Linked DNA regions of Homo sapiens: region 2 is linked to region 1. Evidence: fine-mapped expression QTL. A gene starts in region 1. The other region holds a variant in brackets. All regions are shown on one strand. Distances are between the middles of the regions.

Evidence for each region.
Region 2: its variant is fine-mapped to the expression of USP35 in whole blood (TOPMed, PIP above 0.99).

Annotation. Positions count from the first base shown.
Region 1 is chr11:78,182,995-78,194,148 of GRCh38, reverse strand. It overlaps USP35 (ubiquitin specific peptidase 35), which reads right to left and starts at 5,230. Exons shown (of 11, transcript NM_020798.4): 1 at 4,992-5,230. KCTD21 (potassium channel tetramerization domain containing 21) reads left to right here and starts at 5,523. Exons shown (of 2, transcript NM_001029859.3): 1 at 5,523-5,576. RefSeq lists silencers at 4,877-5,036, 5,467-5,806.
Region 2 is chr11:78,101,628-78,112,112 of GRCh38, reverse strand. It overlaps ALG8 (ALG8 alpha-1,3-glucosyltransferase), which reads left to right. Exons shown (of 13, transcript NM_024079.5): 9 at 2,532-2,671; 10 at 5,167-5,306; 11 at 7,660-7,757; 12 at 8,061-8,133. Among named protein-coding and RNA genes, the nearest start is that of NDUFC2-KCTD14, 27 kb to the right of the region's middle. RefSeq lists a silencer at 6,916-7,210. The variant G/A (reference allele first, on the strand shown) is at 4,779.

The DNA of each region.
Region 1 (11,154 bases):
TCACTGTTGGTTAGAGGTTGTAACCATGGCAGACATCAGTGGTTCCCAAATCCTGGCCTGCTCAGAAGCCTCAGAATGCCTCAGAAGCACCTGGGCACCTGCTACAAGCTCAGATGCGGCCGGGCGCGGTGGCTCACGCCTGTAGTCCCAACACTTTGGGAGGCCAAGGCAGGCAGATCACTTGAGCCCAGGAGTTCAACACCAGCCAAGGGTGGTGGCGAGCCCAGGAGGTCAAGGGTGAAGTAAGGCAAGATCGTGCCACTGCACTCCAGCCTAAGTGATAGAGTGAGACCCTGTCTCAAAAAAAGAAAAGAAAAAGTTCAGGGTCCACCCGAAGCTTCCTGAATGAGGAAATGAGGGAAATGATGTGTTCGATTCTGGGTTTTGTTGTTGTTGTTGTTGTTTTTGACTCTTTGAATGTGGCTCATCTGGGATACATTCTGGTTCCCATAAAGGTTACTTAGGCTCTCTGAGCTGGGCACAAGGAAGTTCTCAGAAAATGTCAACTCCTGTTGCTTCAGAAGCAAAGTCCTTGCCTTGAAGGAGCTTCCAGTCAGATGGGGGAGGCAGAAATGTTTGTAAGGGTGCCCCTGCAAGGTATAATCTCAAAAGGCCTATAAAGTGTCTTTAAAAACTGGTCTCCCAGCTGGGCACAGTGGCTCATGTCTGTAATCTTAGCACTCTGGGAGGCCGAGGTGGGGAGATGGCTTGAGCTCAGGAGGTTGAGACCAGCCTGGGCAACATGGCAAAACCCCATCTCTACAAAAAAAAAAAAAAAAAATTACATCAATTAGCCAGGCGTAGTGTCTCACACCTGCAGTCCCAGCTAGTTGGGGCTGAGACAGGAGGCTCACTTGAGCTTGGGAGGCGAAGGTTGCAGTGAGCTGAGATCACGCCACTGCACTCCAGCCTGGGTGACTAAGTGAGTTCCTGTTTCAAAAAAGAAAAAAGAAAAAAAATTTTTTTAACTCTCCCTTCAGCCCTGGTCCCCTTTCTAGGCAGTGCCCGTGACAAGGCAGTTGCTGTGGCCAACCTCCCCCACACAAACAGTCCATCCTCCCAGACCCCTGGGATGGCTAGTGGATTTCATATGCTTTCAACCCAGGATGCCAAGAAATCCTGGTACTCAGGCAGCCAAGAAGAAACCCTAATCCATGAGGCACTGGCATCATGTGTGAAGCAAGAGGGCATGGGGGCAGGCAGAAATGGAGTTCTGGAGACAGGGAAGACTCTGGTAGTAGAAAGAGTACTAGAAAGAGTAGAAAGAGTATCAGACTAGGAATGAGGAGTCCTACATTCTAGCCCTGACTCATTGTGTGACCCTCAGTAAATCATACCCATGAGCCTCTTTTCTGTAAAATGGGGACAAATGCTATTAGACTGAACCGCATGAAACCGAATGATCAAATGTTGGCAATTTCATGTTGTTCTACCTAACACCACATAAGCCTGGCAGCTGACAGTTCAAATAGAGCTGCTCCATGAGAGCTCTGATCTCCAAGGCCAGCCGGCAGCCTCTGCTCAGTCCGTAGCCTGGCCACAGCAAGCAAGCCCTGCCCACCTGCCCCAACTCCCACGCAGGCAGTCTGAGGACAGCTGTCACCATGGTCACCAGCAAACCCACTCAATATCTTGCATGCACTCAGACAAAAGGGTTTTAGAGGCTTGCACCTCACCTGGCCCCATCAGGCCAGGGAAGGGAGGACAAGGCCAGCTATCCCACTGGCAGGAATGAAGAAAGTGAGGCTCAGAGAGAGGAACATGGCCTTGGCAAAGCAGGATTAGAACCTGCACTCTGCCTCCCTCAGGAGGGCTGGATTAGCCTGCTAAGCCCCGGGTGAGGAGATGGCCTGTCCATGCTGGCTCTGACTCAAGAGACAGCTGCCCCGCACCAACCGCAGCAGCAAACAGCAGCCATGTCCTCCCCGAGGAGAGCCTGTGTTAAAAGCTGAAGATACAGGTTTTCTGCTTCAAAGTCATGGTGACCTTGGGTGAGCCCCTGCCTGGCTTCTTAGCCTTCTCATCTGGAAAATGGGGACTATTCCAAGCCTACCATTCACAGGGTTGAGACAAGGTATAAAAAAGATGAGGTCCTCATTAACACGGTGAAACCCCATCTCTACTAAAAATACAAAAAATTAGCCGGGCGTGGTGGCGGGCACCTGTAGTCCCAGCTACTCAGGAGGCTGAGGCAGGAGAATGGCGTGAACCCAGGAGGCGGAGCTTGCAGTGAGCCGAGATCATGCCACTGCACTCCAGCCTGGGGGACAGAGCAAGACTCCGTCTCAAAAAAAAAAAAAAAAAAAAGATGAGGGCCGGGCTGTCATGAGTCTATTTTTGGGCCACCTGGCACTGATGGGAGACACAGATACTGTCAGGGAAAGGAGACAAGGAGACACGCACTGCTGATCCTGCTGATTCTCCAAGGCATTTCCTCCATTAGCCCTCCCTGCCACTTCGGTGTTCCCAGCCCCACCCAGGATCAGACCCCTTGACTTCTTGCCTGGACTAGTGCAGTAGCCTCCTAACCCATCTCCCAATTCCCTCCCTCAATCCATCCTCCAACAGAGGCATGTGTCCTAGAGGAGAACAGAGTCCAGGCTTCGAGTCTAGCCCAGCCACCATGGAGGTAGGTGTTCTTTTACCTCTGTGATCCTCGGAATGCCCAAATAGAAGGTGACTACGTGCCCACCCCTTAGCCTTTCCCAGCCAGCGCTGCTGCTCCTCCCAAGCCCTTGCCTCATACCCCTCGCCCTACTGGCATGACAGCCTGAGGGGCGTCCCAGCAACACCAGCACACTCCAAGGCACGCAGTGAGCACTCAGGAAAATCCCAATCCCTCTGCCAAAAGGCCCAGATCCTTTCACCTGTTCCTCTCGGATGACCCTCAACATTTCTGCCGAGTGTTGACTGATCTCTGCTCCTGCACAGTTGAGCCTGACTTATCTCCATCACCCCAAAGCACCCTGTGTGTGTGTGTGTATGTGTGTGTACACAACTCCTATGCTCAGCCCCACTGCCACGCCCTGGGCCCCCGCTCAAGCTTCATCATCCCTCCTTGGTCTCTCCAGATGCAGCATCGTCAGATGGAGCTTATTACACGGTAAGCACCATTCCGTCCATGCCCCTGCTCAGAACTCTCAACACTCTCCAGCCCCTTGGACCCAGAATAAGGTCCAAACTCCTGAGCCGGACATGCAAGCCCTTTCTGTGACACTCAGCTGATGTGGGGCAGGGGTGGAGATGAACTCAAGCAACATTGTTCAGTGGAGACTCTGCAGACATTGGAGCAGGGGGCTTTTTCCTGACTGCTACTTTGCACAATGTCCCCTCTACTGAAAAAGGGCTTTTCCCTCTTCTCTCCTGGAAAATTCTGACTCACCCTTCAATGCCCAGCTCACATGCCCTCTCCTCTGGGAAGCCTTTCCTTTTCCCTCCACAATTCAAGTGTCTAAAGTTCTGGCCTCCAAGGCCCTCTTAGCTATTCTCATCCCTCTGCAGCATAACTGGAATCCATGTCTCTGTCTCCCACCAGGCTGGGACCTCCCTTGGCAGAGGTCCAATCCCCGTCTCTGAGCCCAGTGCCCAGTACAGAACCAAGGACTGAGGTGTCCGTGAAGGTGCGTCAAGCAACTCATGAGAGACATGTGACAGCAAGATGAGAGAAAACCAAAGATGTAACCACAAAAGTACCTTCCAGAAACTGGCCTAACCTTTGGTCCAGTCACCACCCCCTCCTTTGCCCAGGCCTGGTCTTGCATATCAAAAACCCTGAAAATCTTAAACATCAGTCAAGAAAGCCCCTACAGAGGTCACTGGACTGGACTGAGGCTTTAGCCATTCTAGAAATTGTTCAAACAACCAAAGCAAAAGAAAAAGCACAAAACAAAAACAAAACAAAACAAAACAAAAATCTGTTCCTGGTTAGCCTTCAGGTCAAAAGCTCACAGAATCTCCTAGGACCTGAGAAGAAGGCTTCATGGTGTTACTCAACCTCTCCCTGCTCCAGGTCAGAGCAGCCCCTCCCAGCCTCTGCTCAGCACCTAAGAGCTGAGGAGCACATTTCCTCCCCTCTCTGACCCTCGAAGCCAGCCTCCCTCCTTTGACTCCCCTGGGAGCCAGAGCTTCCTTGGGGGTACCAGGCTGCCCCTCCCGACACCAGGTGGTGCCCTCCATCTCTGGCCCCTCAGGTGTCTGAATGGCAGCATCTCTCTAGGTATTTTTTAACTGAACTTCTACCCAAGGCAACCCTGGGAAGAAGTGCTTCACCCTACTCCGGGAGGCCCATGTCTGGGCCACCAAACTGTCTCCTGGAAAGAAAAAGAAAAAAGGGTTTCACTGGTAAAAAGCAGCTGCTCTTCCTCAAAGGATAAGGAGGAGAGAGAAGGGAAGAAAGCAGGAGCAGCTATTCCTCCTCAGGAACCCACCACACACACCTATCCCTGCGGGGCCACCCCTCACAAACCTGTGAGGGCCGCACTCCACCCCAAGCTTTCTGGAAGGAAGGGCACCAAGCTGACACATCAGGGTCTCCGGTTTGCAAGGGCCAGGGCCGTAAGAGGGGGTTGGGGAGGGTATCCCAGGGCCCAGCACACTGAGAATAGGAAAAGCCCATTCCAAGCAATGGTGGCCTCGGGCCCCCCAGTTTGTGCCACCTCCCTCCCTCCAGTGCACCCGCGCCCAGCCCACGCTTGAGCTGGAGGGCCCCACGAAAAGCCAGCAAGCGAATGTACTAGGTACTGGGTGCGAATGCCCTCTTACCTGAAAGGGGAGGGAGCAGGATCACTTCGACATACAATTGATGAAGGGAGGGGATTAATGCCCAGAGAGGAATAGCTACTCGCCCAAGGTCACACAGTGAGGCCCAGGAGGCCCAGGATGCACCCAGATCTCCCGACTCCCAGCCCTGGGCTCGCAAGTCCAGGGTTCTCGAAAGGCCAGGGTGCAGACACCGCCCCCCAAAGACAGTCACACGCCCCCAACCCCCTTACCTCCCGGACCCCGGTGGGCCAGAGCCGGCTGCTGGGCGGGGCGCTCAGGCCGGGCAGGACGAGGCTGGGCCCGGCTAGGTCAGGGCTGGTCCTCTGCTCCCCCCAGGGTGGGGACGCCCTCAGCCAGGTCCCAGACGGAAGAGATGCTGCTTCCACTGCAAAATCCAGTCTTCCCACCCCGCCTGGCACAAGCCTCTATGTATCCAGGAAGCCCGACTCTGCGGCGCGGCCCCGGGGCTGCGGGATGAAGCATGGGGAGGGGCGAGGTGCGTGAAATGGGGCGGAGCCGGAGCGGGGGCCACCCCGCGAGCTGCCACTCTGACCGCGTCCCCTTTAAGGCCAGCCGGCCGGACACCGGCGGGGACGAGGCGGGGCGCAGAGCAACTCGCTGCAATGCCTCCTGGGAGATGGAGTTCGCTCTCGACGCGCCGAGCTGCGAGGAGCCCAGAGAGAACTACCAGTCCCGGAAGGCAGCGCACAGACCCCGGACCGCCACGCCCCTGGGCTGGGCTCCTACCCTCCGCCCCCCTCGCAAAGCTGCGCTGGCCGCTCGCGGAGGGAGAGGCTGCAGAGCGAGGGCAGGAGGTGGGTGCGGCACGGCCGGGGTCGCGGGGCTCGGGGACTACCGGCGAGGGTACGTGGGCCCACTGAGCACCTGTCTTACCATGAGACTAATCTATCCCAGCCTCGCCATTCCCATCTGTGAAATGGGGATGGCATCGCCTGTGGTGCGGGGGAGGGGGCGCGTTTCGGAGCGAGGTGAGCCGAAGTGGGCAGAGCTCTTAGAGGGGCGGGGCTGTTGGGAGAGCAAGGGCGGATGGTGATAGTCGGAAAAGCCCGGATAATGAGGGTCGGGACTGTGGGAGGAGTCCTTGGTGGGTGGGGCAAGGAGAGGCGGGATCTCTAGGTGGGGGTGGGGCACTTGTCAGGTCGGAGTGGGGGCTGTAGGGCTGGGGAGTGGGTGCGGAACAAGCCGATGAGGCCAGCCTGGGTGAGATTGGGGAAGGAAGGGCGGAGACACAGATGACAGGGAACTTGCCCCGCTCTGGAGAGCCCTGGGCCGGCCGCGCTGTGGCGGCGTGGGCAAAAGCCTGTGATGCATAGAACACCTCCCTTTACTGACTGGAAATAAAGAGTCCATCCCCGAGTTCAGTGCGGCACACCAGTGATCTCATTGACCTCCCACGCCCTGAAAAGTAGAGGCGTCACTATAGCGGTTGACAGGTGAGGAATGTGAGGCTCAGAAAAGCGAAGGGACTTGCCTAAAACCACTCAGGACTCCTTACTTCAAAGACCTTGCTTTTCTCCCTGCACTCGGGGAGGCAGAGGTTTAGCTTGGCGTGGGAGGCAGGAAAGAAAAGTTTTGATGCCCCGACCTTCGCAAATTGTCTGGCAGGACCAGTCCCCCCAACCCTTCCGAATGACAGCCTGTAAGGCAGCCCTCCTATAGTACTGTGAGGATGAAATGAGATGGATTTGAAAGCACGGTGTTTATAAATTACTGTTTGGAGGAGACATAGGAAGAGAGCGGTTTGAAATGGGGTGCTGGTGCCGGAGGAAAAGCACAAGGTGAAGCGTGAGAGTGAGCCGAGAAGGTGAAGGAAAGTTCTGGAAGGGGCTGGGGGATGGTAGTGGTTGTTGGAGGTCTACGCCAGATGAAAGAATACCTTGCCGTGCCAGATTCCGTGGTCTCCTTCTTCCAGCCCACCTTTCTCTCCTCCTGCCTTTTGCGCAGCTCATTCTGGGGTCCCTGTGTCTAGGAAGCACCTTTTCTCTCCTCCCTATGGGTTGTGATGGTAATAGAGCAGCCTTCGGATTTCTTAGAGATATGGACTGGGCAAGACAGAATTATAGACGCAGCTCTTTGATGTGGGGTGGTCAGGAAGAGGAGGTGAAGAAAGGGTAGTCGTCCTAGGGGCTTCAAGGCAAAGAGTCCTTTCTCCGGTGGGGTAAGGTGGGGAAGTCTCCCACTTACTGGAAAACACAGTACTCACTCTGAGCATTGTCTTTTTTGAAATTTACCCAGCCACGTGCTGTCCATTCCCTTACGCAGTGGAAACTCTCCTTGCATTTACTCCCAAGTAATCACCTCGGCCTTGTCACATCCCTTTAGATTCCAGATTGAAAATTGAACAGAGCATTTCAAAATTAAAAAGTTTTGAAAATCCAGGTGGGGAAAATGGATCTGACTAAACAGGAGAGAAATTTCTTCCTCTTCCCCTATTCTACGTGCTTCTGTGGATATAGAAAGGGGCACCCCCAGCCCCAGCAAGGGAGCCAGGCATCCATCTACTTAAGTAAAGTTGGCTGTGGTAAGGGGTTAGACTAAAATTCTCCGCAGATGCAGAGGAGAAGGAATGAATTCCAGCTGAGAGACCTGGCCGATGCATGGGATTTGTCTTCAAGGTCCAGGCAGAGGGGATGGCAGATGCCAAATTGCAGAAGTCGAAGAGGGCCCAGTATGGTTGGTCTGTAAAGTAGGTATATAATAGTATCTACTTAATCTGTGAGATTGAAAGAGATTAACATGTATAGAGTGCCTAGCACGGTAGTAACTGCTCAATAAACGTTAGCCATTATTATTGCCGTTGTAGTGTTTGTTGTTGTTATGATCATCATCATCTGCCCAGGAACGTGCCCAGGGCTGCACAGCTAGTAAGTGGCAGGGGATGATTCAAATGCAAACCCAGGTAATGCCGAATACCATGCATGGTCTGCCCCTACCCCACACAGCCTCTCCAGTTCTTTTCTTTTTTTTTTTTTTTTTTTTTTTTTTTTTTTTTTTTGAGACAGGGTCTTACTCTGTTGCCCAAGCTGGAGTGCAGTGGCGTGATCTCGGCTTGCTGCAGCCTGACCTCCCAGGCTCAAGCGATCCTCCTACCTCAGCCTGTGCAGCTGGGACTGCAAGCACGTGTTACCATGCCCAGCTAATTTTTTTTTTTCTCTATAGAAACGAGGTCTCATTATGTTGTCCAGGTGGTCTCAAACTCCTGAACTCAAGCGATCCTCCCACCTGGGCCTTCCAAGTGCTGGGATTACAGGCATGAGCCACTGAGCCTGGCCTGTCTCCAGTTCTTTCTGCCCATCCTTGACATTTCTGAGGCCCAGGAGTGGCCTCTCTTTGTCAACATTCACAGTGAGTCATGACAGGAGTTTCTTTCCTGCCGAGTTACAGAGATTCTGGGTTCATGATGAGGCAGGAAAAACAAGGCCTGAACAGCCATCTTCTTCCAGGCAGAATCACAGCACAGAAGATAGGCAGACCTGGCCGGGCGCGGTGGCTCACGCCTGTAATCCCAGCACTTTGGGAGGCTGAGGTGGGTGGATCATTTGAGGTCAGGAGCTTGAGACCAGCCTGGCCAACGTGGTGAAACCCCGTCTCTACTAAAAATACAAAAATTAGCCGGGCATGGTGGCACGCACCTGAAATCCCAGCTACTCAGGAGGCTGAGGCAGGAGAATCACTTGAACCTGGGAGGCAGAGGTCGCAGTGAGCCAGGATCACGCCACTGCACTCCAAACTGGGTGACAGAGCGAGACTCTATCTCAAAAAAAAAAAATAGGCCTAGTGGTGTGGTTTCTGTGGGTGGTGGCTCTATCCAGACTGCCCACCCAGGCTTAGATTCTAACTCCTCCACCACTTAGCCCTGGTTGGCATCCTCACCCTTCAAAATTCAGAAACACTTGGGAAGGAAAATTATGAGCTTTTCACACTTCTAAGTAGTAGTAGTAAATCTGTAACTTACTAAATCTGGCGACTTATTGGGGTCTGGCACAATGACTGTAACTTTACATCTATTGGCCCTATGAAGAAGTGTTCTTCCCCCCTCTTTTAAAATACAAATATTTTTAAAATTTTCAAGCTTACATAAAAGCTTAAAGTACAACCCTTAACCTAGATACGCCAAATCACAATTTGCCAATTGTGCTTTTACACAAACACACACTTTTTTGGCCCAATTATTTAAAAGTAAGTTACAGATATGTTGATTGACGTTTGACCCCTAAATTCTTCAACATGTATCCCCTAATAAGGGCGTTCTACTACATAGCCATAATACATTATATGTAATAAGCAAGAAGTCAGTATTACCCAATGTAATAGTTATTCAAAATTTTCTGCCAGGTGCAATGGGTCATGTCTATAACCCCAGCACTTTGGGAAGCAAAGGCAGACAGATTGCTTGAGCCCAGGAGTTCAAGGCCAGCCTGGGCAACATAGTGAAACCCCATCTCTACAAAAACTACAAAATTTAGCATGGTGTGGTAGCGTGCACCTGTAGTCCCAGCTACTTGGGAAAATCACCTGAGCCTGGGGATGTCAAGGCTGCAGTGAACCATGATCGCGCCACTGCACTCCAGCCTGGGCGACAGAGTGAGACCCTGTCTCAAGAAAAAAAAAATTCTAATTGCCCAAAAATACCTTATATAGTTTCTGGTTTTTAAAATCAGATCCAGTCAAGATGTACATATTGCATCCTATTATATCTCTTTTATCAACTCATTTAATCTAAATAGAGCCCCTTGGCATGGTAGCTCATGTCTGTAATCCCAACATTTTGGGAGGCTGAGGTGGGCAGATCACTTGAGGTCAGGAGTTCGAGACCAGCCTGGCCAACATGGTGATACCCCATCTCAAGTAAAAATACAAAAATTAGCCGGACATGGTGGTGTGTGCCTATACTCCCAGCTACTCAGGAGGCTGAGGCAAGAGAATTGCTTGAACTCAGGAGGTGGAGGTTGCAGTGAGCCGAGATTGTGCCACTGCACTCCAGCCTGGGCAACAGAGTGTGACTCTATCTCAAATAAATAAATAAATAAATAAATAGAGCTTCTCCACCTATTTAAATATGTTTGATTGGTTTATCAATGATTAGATTGGGGTTAGATTTAAGTTTTTGGCAATGTGTGTACTTACTGCATGTCAGGAGGATATGATGTCAGGGTCTTACTATCCATGAATGCTAAATTTGATTATTAAGGTCATGGCAACCTGATCTCTCTATCGTAAAGGTAAATTTTTCTCTCTTACAATTAATAAGTAATCTGTGAAGTGATTCTCTGAGTCTGTTATAATTATGTGTTCCTGATAACCTTTCACACCACATCCTTGGATGATCCTTGCTTGAATTACAACACTGAGGGTTGCAAATTGGTAATTTTCTAATTCTGCCATTCCTTCTGTGTTTATTAGTGTTCTTTTTTATAGAATTAATTTTTCCTGGCCGGGTGCGGTGGCTCACGCCTGTAATCCCAGCACTTTGGGAGGCCGAGGCGGGCGGATCACGAGGTCAGGAGATCGAGACCATCCTGGCTAACAAGGTGAAACCCTGTCTCCACTAAAAATACAAAAAATTAGCCGAGCGAGGTGGCGGGCGCCTGTAGTCTCAGCTACTCGGGAGGCTGAGGCAGGAGAATGGCGTGAACCCTGGGAGGCGGAGGTTGCAGTGAGCCGAAATCACACCACTGCACTCCAGCCTGGGCGACAGTGAGACTCCGTCTCAAAAAAAAAAAAAAAGAATTAATTTTTCCTGTCTCTATCTTTCTCACTCCCTTCTTCTCACCCTCTTTTTTCTTTTGGGAATAACATTATGGACTCTTGTTTTTTGTTTGTTTGTTTTTGAGATGGAGTCTCACTCTGTTGCCCTGGCTGGTGTGCAGTGGCACGATCTTGGCTCACTGCAACCTCCACTTCCCAGATTCAAGCGATTCTCCTGCCTCAGCCTCCCAAGTAGCTGGAATAACAGGCGCACGCCACCCCGCCCAGCTATTTTTTGTATTTTTAGTAGAGATGGGGTTTTGCCATGTTAGCCAGGCTGGTCTTGAACTCCAGACCTCAGGTGATCCGCCCGCCTCGGCCTCCCAAAGTGCTGAGATTACAGGCATGAACTACCGCACCCAGCCTGGACTCTTGTTTTGTTGTTGTTGTTTTTTAATTCACTGGGCTATATGAACTCACCTTGAACTTTTCCTGTGAAAGTCCAGGAATCATCAGTTTCTCCAGGAAGCCCTGGTTTCTTTTAGAAGAGATGATGACATTCAGAAACAAAGATCCAGGGCTAGGTGTGTTTATTGCTACTGGGTGTCATTTCTAGGCTCTGTGAGTGAGCAGAGCTAGGAAATGATGGATAGGTGATTGATAGATAGATGATAGATGGACAAT
Region 2 (10,485 bases), 82 kb after region 1:
TTTTTAGAGATGAGGGTCTCACTATGTTGCCCAGAGTGGGATCAAACTTCTGGTCTCAAATGATCCTCCCACCTTGGCTTCCCAAAGTGCTGGGATTACCAGCACAAGCCACCATGCCTGGCCTACCCCACTTTTAAACCTAAACATACAAGAAAGAAGAATATGTAAGTTGTGACTCTCGGTATTAAACCAGTAAGGAAAATAACCCTGCATTTTAACATGAGGTGAGAAGAAATGAAAAACCCAGGCTATGGTTTTTAAAATTGGGTCGTAATGAAAAATAAGTTATGGTTTGAGATGGTTCTACTAAAAATAACTCACTCTGGATAACACAGTCTCTCATTTGTGAATACAATCTAGCTTGGTGGGAAAATGGCATGATCAAGAGTGGTGGTCAGCAAACTTTTTCTGTAACTGGCCAGATAATATTTTAAGCTATGCAGGCCACACACAGTGTGTGTGTGTGTATGTGTGTCTGTGTCTGTATTTGTGTATGCACACATTTGTTTAAAACCTTATAAAAGTAAAAACCATTCATACTTCAGTGCTGTGCAAAAACTGGGCACAGGCTACATTTGGCTGTTGGCCTATAGTTTGTGGACTCCAGACCTAGAGTCTGATGACTTGGTTTGGAGGCTCACCTGTGTAAATTGCTATTGCAGTGTGTGGCATTGACAAGTCATTTGCTTCCTTTCGTCTAACTTTCCTCACTATACGAAAGACATACTAGTACTTTACCTGTACCTATACAGTGTGTTGTGAGGAACAGAAGCAAAATTTAAAAAGTACTAGGTTATCAGTAGCAGAGACTTTGGAGCCAGACAAACCTGAGTTCAGTTTTACCACCTATTAGTTGTGTGACTTTGGGCAGGTTACTCCATCTCTGTACCTCAGGGGGCTAAAAGTAGTAAGTGCAGAGCCCTGGGCACATGGTAGACGCTCCATGCATGGTGGCCACTATTACTGTTTTTGATAAGTACTTGGAGGAGATCATACACTGCCTATGTGATGACTTATACATTGTGTCACCGTGTTGCTCACTGTGAATCTAGCCTTGATGTACATGGCATTCTTACAGAGTAATTCCTAACATTCATATTTCAAAAAAAGCTTTAAACAGCCAGCATAGTATGAGGTACAAGGGCCAGTTGCCTTGTCTGAGTCAGGAAGCTGTACTGTACCCTCACTTGTATGTTTGTGTCTTTGAAGATGTTTTACATGGAAAGTCAGTGTCAGAGTTAGACAACTTTGTTTTAGGGAGATAGTTATTAGCTGTAAGAGAGAATCAGCAGGCCAAAGGGGAAAGGGGAAGAGGTTAGTAAGTAGAAAATATTTTGGTACATCTTTCCCACATTGTATTCATTTTCACTGGCATTTGACAGGCCCTATAGGTGCTCAAACTGTCTCTGACTGTCCTATTAGCCAGAGCTTGTTGGGGCTTGTATTGTCATTCTCTGAATTGATTTATTTAATAACCAAGTATTTATTGAGCTCCTATGTACTGGGGATAGAAATGAACTCATCATCATTCCTGCCTTCAAGGAATACAGTATAGTAGAGGAAATGAGCACATAAACAAGTGCAGTGCCTTGTGGTGAACACTGTTAGAGTGAGCTCACTCAGCTGTGCACGTTGGCTCAGGCCTGTAATCCTAGCACTTTGGGAGGCTGAGATGGGCGGATCACCTGAAGTCAGGAGCTCGAGACCAGCCTGGCCAACATGGTGACACCCCGTCTCTACTAAAAATACAAAAATTAGCCGGGCATGGTGGCACATGCCTGTAATCCCAGTTAATGGGGAGGCTGAGGCAGGAGAATCGCTGGAACCTGGAACCTGGGAGGCAGAGGCTGCAGTGAGCTGAGATTGCGCCACTGCATTCCAGCCTCTGTCTCTGGGTGACAGAGTAAGACTCCATCTCAAAAAAAAAAAGTGAGCTCACAAGAAAATCAGTTCTGCTTATTGATTTAGGAGCTTTCTCAGGTGATTGAATTAGAAGTTAATTTGGCAAAGGGAGTTGCCTGGGCAGAGGGACACAGGTGTTGAGAGTGGTATATTGAGGACTCACAGTTACTTCATTGTGGCCAAGCCGCATTTAACAAAGTAAAGATGAGATTGAACAGGGGGGAAGGGGCGATGAGATCATGGAAGACACTGGATACTATGTTTAGGAATAGAGGGTTTCTCCCATAGGAGATGAAGGATTCAAAGTTCCTTCATGACATGCTCAGACTGTTCTAGAAGCTTGCTTTCAGAGGTGAGAGCAGATTACCATTTGTGCTGCCTGCCAGCAAGTTTCCTATAAGCTGCACAAATTCCCTGTTCCAATGCAAAGAGCTGCTTTATATATTATAATCTTAAGACCAGAGGCATTTTGGGTAGAATAGTATAGGATTAAATTCATGAAATCTTAGCCTTTAAGCAGCAATAAGATTTAGTAGCTTACTTTTTATTCCTCAAGGAATTGATTGTTAATATATGGTATCTCAGTAATAAAGATAAAAATAAAACAAAACAAAATATCTGTTTAATAGGTTTGAAATTGAAATTTCTTGATCCCAACAATATTCCCAAGGCCTCAATGACAAGTGGTTTGGTTCAGCAGTTCCAACACACAGTCCTTCCCTCAGTGACTCCCTTGGCAACCCTCATCTGCACACTGATTGCCATATTGGTAAGAACTCAACAGATGGTGCTCATTTCTTGAGTTTTCTCTGCTTTTCTTTTGTCTGGCTGATTAAATTTCAACTTTCAAGCTCTTCCAACTGTAGGATAAATTTCATGCCTGTAATCCTTCTGCAGATTGAAGCATTTCCTAGCAATTCTTAGAGTAACTTTGAATACCATAAGGAAGGATTACCAGTAAAGCCTTTGTGAGAGATTCTTGCCAGTGGCTGTTAGACCATCTGTTCACCCGGGGGAAGGGAAAAAGAAAAGCCCAGAGAGGAAGAGGCATGGATCATGCTGCAGAGAAAGAAGGAAATGTTTGTGGCAGGGACATCCAGATTTGGTTTGTTTTTCTCACCGTTAGCTAAATCATCAAAATTCCAAATGTATCTGGACAGCGTGGATGTTTTGTCTTGATGGTGATAATGAGTTGAGAGAGTCGACAAAGGCTTTTTGAGCCTAAGATGAGCCTAATATGAGTAAGATGCTCTTAGAGGCCTCATTCTAAGTACTTTAGAAACTTTAATTTCTAAAATTTCATTAGTGATTGCAGTGACCTCAATTTCATGGTATAATTTTAGTAGAATTCAATATAAACAACTCAATCCTATCGATAATTACACTCATCTTTAATTTTGGTTTCTGAATGTTTCAAACCTGCTAGCAACCACCTGATTCCACTTAATTACATGACAGTACAGGTATGTAGATAATTAAGCTCTGTTGGGCTGTTTGTTCACATATTTTAATTGAGGTAAAACATTTTTCCTAAAATTTCAGCCTTATGAGGTACATATAGTTTCTATGGCCTTCCAGCCAATAAAACTAAGTATTTATTAATATGGTAAATCTAATTTATTGGCTCAAAAGCATCTATGGACTTCTGTAGTTTGACCTATTAGGTTCATTAATAAATGAACTATTAGTAAACTAATTATGAAGATGTAATAAGTTGTTAGACTGTACATCCCAGAACTTAATTATTAATTTTGATAGTATAATTAATTTCTTTTTTTTTTGAGACAGAGTCTCACTCCGTCATCCAGGCTGGAGTGCAGTGGCGATTCTCCTGCCTCAGCCTCCCAAGTAGCTGGGATTACAGGCGCCTGCCACTGCACCCAGCTAATTGTTTTGCAGTAGTTTTGTTTTTGTTTTTGTTTTTGTTTTTTGAGACGGGAGTCTTGTTCTGTTGCCAGGCTGGAGTGTAGTGGTACGATCTCAGCTCACTGCAACCCCCACCTCCTGGGTTCAAGCGATTCCCCTGCTTCAGCCTCCTGAGTAGCTGGAACTACAGGCATGCACCACCACGCCCGGCTAATTTTTTTTGTATTTTAGTAGAGACAGGGTTTCACCATGTTGTCCAGGATGGTCTCGATCTCCTGACCTCGTGATCCGCCCACCTCGGCCTCCCAAAGTGCTGGGATTATAGGCCTGAGCCACCACACCCGGCCTTTTTTGTAGTTTTTAGTAGAGACAGGGTTTCACCATCTTGGCCAGGCTGGTCTTGAACTCCTGACCTCGTAATCGACTTGCATCAGCCTCCCAAAGTTCTGGGATTACAGGCGTGAGTCACTAGGCCCGGCCAATTTTTTTTTTTTTTTTTTTTTTTGAGACAGTCTCGGTCTGTCACCTAGGCTGGAGTGCAGTGGCGCAATTTCAGCTCACTGCAACCTCTGCCTCCCAGGTTCAAGCGATTCTCCTGCCTCAGCCTCCAGAGTACCTGGGAATACAGGTATGTACCACCACGCCCAGCTAGTTTTTTTTGTATTTTTAGTAGAGATGGGGTTTCACTATGTTGGTCAGGCTGTTCTTGAACTCCTAACCTCAAGTGATCTGCCTGCCTTGGCCTCCCAAAGTGCTGGGATTATAGGCATGAGCCACCATGCCCAGCCAGTAGAATTAATTTTAATGAGTTAAATATATACATCAAGGCTAGGTGCGGTGGCTCAAACCTGTAATCCCAGCACTTTGGGAGGCCAAGGCAGGCAGATCACGAGGTCAGGATTTTGAGACCAGCCTGGCCAACATGGTGAAACCCCGTCTCTATTAAAAATACAAAAATTAGCTGGGCGTGGTGGCAGGCACCTGTAATCCCAGCTACTTGGGAGGTTGAG[G/A]CAGGAAAATCGCTTGAACCCAGGAGGTGGAGGTTGCAGTGAGCCGAGATCGCACCACTGCACTCCAGCCTTGGCAACAAAGCGAGACTCCGTCTCAAAAAAACAAAAAATTATATATATATATATATATATATATTTACATATAAAATATATTTATTTACATATAAAAATATATATATACACATCAAATGCCAATTTTTTCTGAGTTGTTGCTTTTATGTTAACTTTTGTTAGACTGTGCACAAAGTGATGAATGATTCGGTTTCATGAAGAATTGTCTAAGATTGGCTGTCTTTCAGAGATGATGCAAATTGTATTCACCTGAACTCTGTTTCTGTAAAGTCTGTTTCAAATGATACTGAAGTTTATCTTTGCCTGTTGTTTCTAGCCCTCTATTTTCTGTCTTTGGTTTAAACCCCAAGGGCCCAGAGGCTTTCTCCGATGTCTAACTCTTTGTGCCTTGAGCTCCTTTATGTTTGGGTGGCATGTTCATGAAAAAGCCATACTTCTAGCAATTCTCCCAATGAGGTAAGCAGATAGCTCAGCCAGTGAGCATTTTGGCATATTTCACAATGATCCTATTTTCTATTTGCTCTGTCCCTTCTTGTCATGTTCACCAGGATAGGCAAAAACAAAGATGTATAGGAACAGATGTCCACTAGGACAGGACAGGGATGCTTAACTTGAGATTCTTGGACCCATGAAGGTATGCAAAAATGCATGTACTATTTCTGTTTCTGCGTTTTTGGAAAGAAGCACTGTAGTGATTAAGTACCATGAAAGCCGGCTTTTAGATCTGATCATTGAGGGACAGTATGTTATAGAAAAAACCTGGGCTGGCCGGGCGCGGTAGCTCACGCCTGTAATCCCAGCACTTAGGGAGGCCAAGGCGGGCAGATCACGAGGTCAGGAGATCGAGACTATCCTGGCTAACATGGTGAAACCCCATCTCTACTAAAAATACAAAAAATTAGCTGGGCATAGTGGCACATGCCTGTAGTCCCAGCTACTCGGGAGGCTGAGGCAGGAGAATTGCTTGAACCCGGGAGGAAGAGGTTGCAGTGAGCCGAGATCGCACCACTGCATTCCATTCTGGGTGACCGAAGGAGACTCTGTCTCAAAAATGAAAAAAAGAAAAAACTTGGGCTTTGGTGTCATCCCGTCTGAAAATAAGGTCCCATGGTTCCTTGTTAAGTGTTGTTAGTCAAAGTAAGGATTTAGTCTATTCTGGAATAATACCTGATACTGTACTACATTTCAGATTTTCCAGAACTGTTTTTGTTTTGCATTCTTTCTTTTGCGCCTCACAATAATCTTTAAGATAATTGGCCAGGCATGGTGGCTCACATCTGCAATCCCAGTACTTTCGGAGGCTGAAGCGGTGGTTCACTTGATGCCAGGAGTTTGAGATCAGCCTGGCCAACATGGCAAAATCCCATCTCTACTAAAAATACAAAAATTAGCCAGGCATGGTGGTGCATGCCTGTAATCCCAGCTACTTGGGAGGCTGAGGCATGAAGATCCTTTGAACCTGGGAGGTGAAGGTTGCAGTGAGCCAAGATGGCGCCACTGCACTCCAGCCTGGGGCAATAGAGTGAGACCCTGTCTCAAAAAAAGAAAAAAAAAAAAGATAGTTAAAATAAATGGGTATTATTCCCTTTTTTTTCCTTTCTTTTTTTTTTTTTTACTTTTTGGTAGAGACAGGGTCTTGCCATGTTGCCTAGGCTGGTCTCAAACTACTGGGCACAAGCAGTCTTCCTACCTCAGCCTCCCAAAGTGCTGGGATTGCAGATGTGAGCCAACAAAACAGGCTTATTCCCTGTCTTAACATCTGAAGAATCTAGGGCTCAAAATGTTTGTGACTTGTCCAAAGTCATACAGGTCGCAAGAATTAGAGTTAGGACCTGAATCTTATGATGTTGAATCTATGATCTTTTCACTATGCCATGCTAAAAAAACCATTTTAAATGTAAGTGTCCAGTTTAGGCATAGTTGAAACCCAATAGATAAATAAATGGTAATAATAGCCTCTTTCTTTATATTTTTCTTGAATCTTGAGAAATCATTTAAGCTCTGAACATATATTAAGCAAATTTGTCAGGCCAGTATGTGGCTTGTCTGGGTTTATTTAGCAGCTTGGAGTTTCCAAATTAAAAAGTAAAGCAAAAACTTTTAATGTCTTTAGTCTGAATTCACACCAAACACCAGCAGGTGAAGGGCATTGTCCAAGAGATGAGCTATAGGGTTGGAAATGAAACTCCAAGTCCTGTTTCCCTGACTGCCACCACTAGGCAGCTCCCAATCCCACAACATTCCTGTCTTTGGAGAAGGCAATTACTCAGGGAAGCAAGATTCTTTTTTTTTTTTTTTTGAGACAGAGTCTCGCTCTGTTGCCCAGGCTGGAGTGCAGTGGCGCGATCTCGGCTCACTGCATCCTCTGCCTCCCAGGTTCAAGCAATTCTCCTGCCTCAGCCTCCTGAGTAGCTGGGATTACAAGCACCCGCCACCATGCCCAGCTAATTTTTGTATTTTTAGCAGAGACAGGGTTTCACCATGTTGGCCAGGCTGCTCTTGAATTCCTGACCTCAGGTGATCCTCCCGCCTCGGCCTCCCAAAGTGCTGGGATTAAAGGCATGAGCCACTGTCCCCGGCCAGAAGCAAGATTCTTTTACGATACCCCTGATTCAGTTTGATACATGCTATTGATTGCTTAAAATTTCCTACTAAAAAATTAATATTCTCAACTAAATTGAACTTGTGCCAAAATCAGCATGTTCTTCTATGCCTCAGCCAGTTCTAATGTAATAGGAGATGCAGTTTATTTAAGCTATTTGCAAGTGTAATAACAGTTGTTGTTTTAAGAAATTATTTTTATTTTTAGCCTTTTGTCTGTGGGAAAAGCAGGAGACGCTTCGATTTTTCTGATTCTGACCACAACAGGACATTATTCCCTCTTTCCTCTGCTCTTCACTGCACCAGGTAAACAGCGTCTTCTGAGAAAAATATATTTGACTATCACAACCTTTTCATCGAGGCCCACAGATTAATACATCTAATTTAAACAACTCTAAAATCTCTTGGATAGAGATCATTCATCCTCTTAAATAAAACCTCCAATTTCCTGTAATTCTCAGCATCTCTAGATGTCACAAAAATGTAAAATTAAACTTAAAAAGTATTATTAGCACTATATAGCTGTGTCAGTGTGCTTATATTACTTTCAGCATCATAAGTCTTTCTGTCATCAGCTAAATTATCTTTTTTTTTCTATTCTTTTAACAGAACTTCCCATTAAAATCTTACTCATGTTACTATTCACCATATATAGTATTTCGTCACTGAAGACTTTATTCAGGTAATCAAAAAAATGTTTAAAATTATACTTACTCTTGTGAAATGTTTACACCTAAGTGGTCAAATAAGCTCTTTAAATTTTATTTTTAAGTTATAACAGTAATATGACAACATTACAAAAAAAATTGGTAAATAGAGGGAGAAATCACTCAATCCCATCACTCAGTCGAGACAACATAGTTTGTGTCTTTAGTTTGGGGGAGTATTTGAGGAGGACTACTTAAATTAAAATCCTATATGAAAACTCAAAAACTGAATGTAAAATATGCTTTATGAATAAAACTATTAAATACAGATAGATATGGAAAAAACTAAAAGATACTATGTACAAATTTTTTTTGTTCGTTTTTTTGAGACGGAGTTTTGCTCTTGTTGCCCAGGCTGGAGGGCAATGGCGTGATCTCGGCTCACCACACCCTCCGCCTACCGGGTTCAAGCTATTCTCCTGCCTCAGCCTCCCAAGTTACTGGGATTACAGGCATGCGCCACCATGCCCAGCTAATTTTTTTTTTTTTGGAGACGGAGTTTCACTCTTGTCGCCCAGGCTGGAGTGCAGTGGCGCGATCTCCACTCACTGCAACTTCCGCCTCCTGGGTTCAAGCGATTCTCCAGCCTCAGCCTCCTGAGTAGCTGAGATTATAGGTATGCATCACTACCACACCTGGCTAATTTTTTATATTTTTAGTAGAGGTGGGGTTTCACCATGTTGGCCAGGCTGCTCTCGAGCTCCTGACGTCAGGTGATCCACTTACCTTGGCCTCCCATAGTGCTGGAAGTACAGGCGTGAGCTGCTGTGCCCGGCTAATTTTGTATTTTTATTAGAGATGGGGTTTCTCTGTGTTGGTCAGGCTGGTCTTGAACTCCCAACCTCAGGTGATCCACCCACCTCGGCCTCCCAAAGTGCTGGGATTACAGGCGTTGAGCCACCGCACCCAACTATGTACAAATTTTACTACAGAATTATAGATGGAAACTTTTTCTCTTCTAAACTGTATGTAATGTTAACTATAATTTTTTTTTTTTTTTTTTGAGACGGAGTTTCACCCTTGTTGCCCAGGCTGGAGTGCAATGGCACGATCTCAGCTAACTGAAACCTCCGCCTCCCAGGTTCAAGCGATTCTCCTGCCTCAGCCTCCCTAGCAGCTAGGATTACAAGCATGCGCCACCACACCCAGCTGATTTTGTATTTTTAGTAGAGATGGGTTTCTCCATGTTGGTCAGGCTGGTCTCAAACTCCTGACCTCAGGTGATCCACCGTCCTTGGCCTCCCAAAGTGCTGGCATTACAGGTGTGAGCCACCATGCCCGGCCAACTGTAATTTTTTAAAGCTTGCTTATGGTTCATAACTGTGTCCATAAAAACTTATATAATTAACTATGTTAAAATGCAGTTATAGCCATGTGACCCAGCAATTCCACCCCTATACCCAAAAGAATGGAAACAGGGACTCAACAGATACTTGTACATCAGTATTCATTGTAGCATTATTCATACTAGCTAAAAGATGGAAACAACCCAATGTCCATCAACAAATACATGATAAAGTGTGATATATACATATAGTGGATTATTCAGCCAAAGAAAAGAATGAAGTTCCAATACATGCTACATGAATGAATCTTGAAAACATGCTAAGTGAAAGAAACGAGAGAATAGAACAAATATCATATCGTTCCACTGATAGGAAATTCTAGAATAAACAAACATAGAGACAGAAAGTAGATTAGAGGTTGAGGGAACAGGGGGATGGGAAGTTATTGTTAATGGTTCCAGAGTTTCTGTTTGGGGTCACGAAAATATTTTGAAGGTGGATAGTGGCGATGGGCGCATATTATTGATCTACTTAATACCATCAAACTGTATACTTAAAAATGGTTAAACAAATAGCAAATTTCATGTTATATATATTTTACCAAAATAAAAAATATTTTAAAAATCTGGTGAAACCTTGTCTCTATAGAAAATACAAAAATTAGCTGGGCATGGTGGCAGGCGCCTGTAATCCCAGCTACTTGGGAGGCTGAGGCAAGAGAATCGCTTGAACCCAGGAGGTGGAGGTTGCAGTAAGCTGAGATTGCACCACTGCACTCCAGTCTGGGTGACAGAGCAACGCTCCATCTCAAAAAGAAAATTTTTTTTAAATCTTCAATTCTATATTGTTTCTCATGTTCTTATTCCAATGTCACAGCACCCAACCCCTTTACCTCTTTCAAATGCAGAACTAATTCTCTCTGAGCAGCTTGAGCTAAATAACAGCATAGGTCAATGGTGGAGTAAATTTAGATTGTTGAGATAATATAACGTATATAATTATCATTTTTTTCTAAATGTGAAACTTATTTTTTATTTTTAT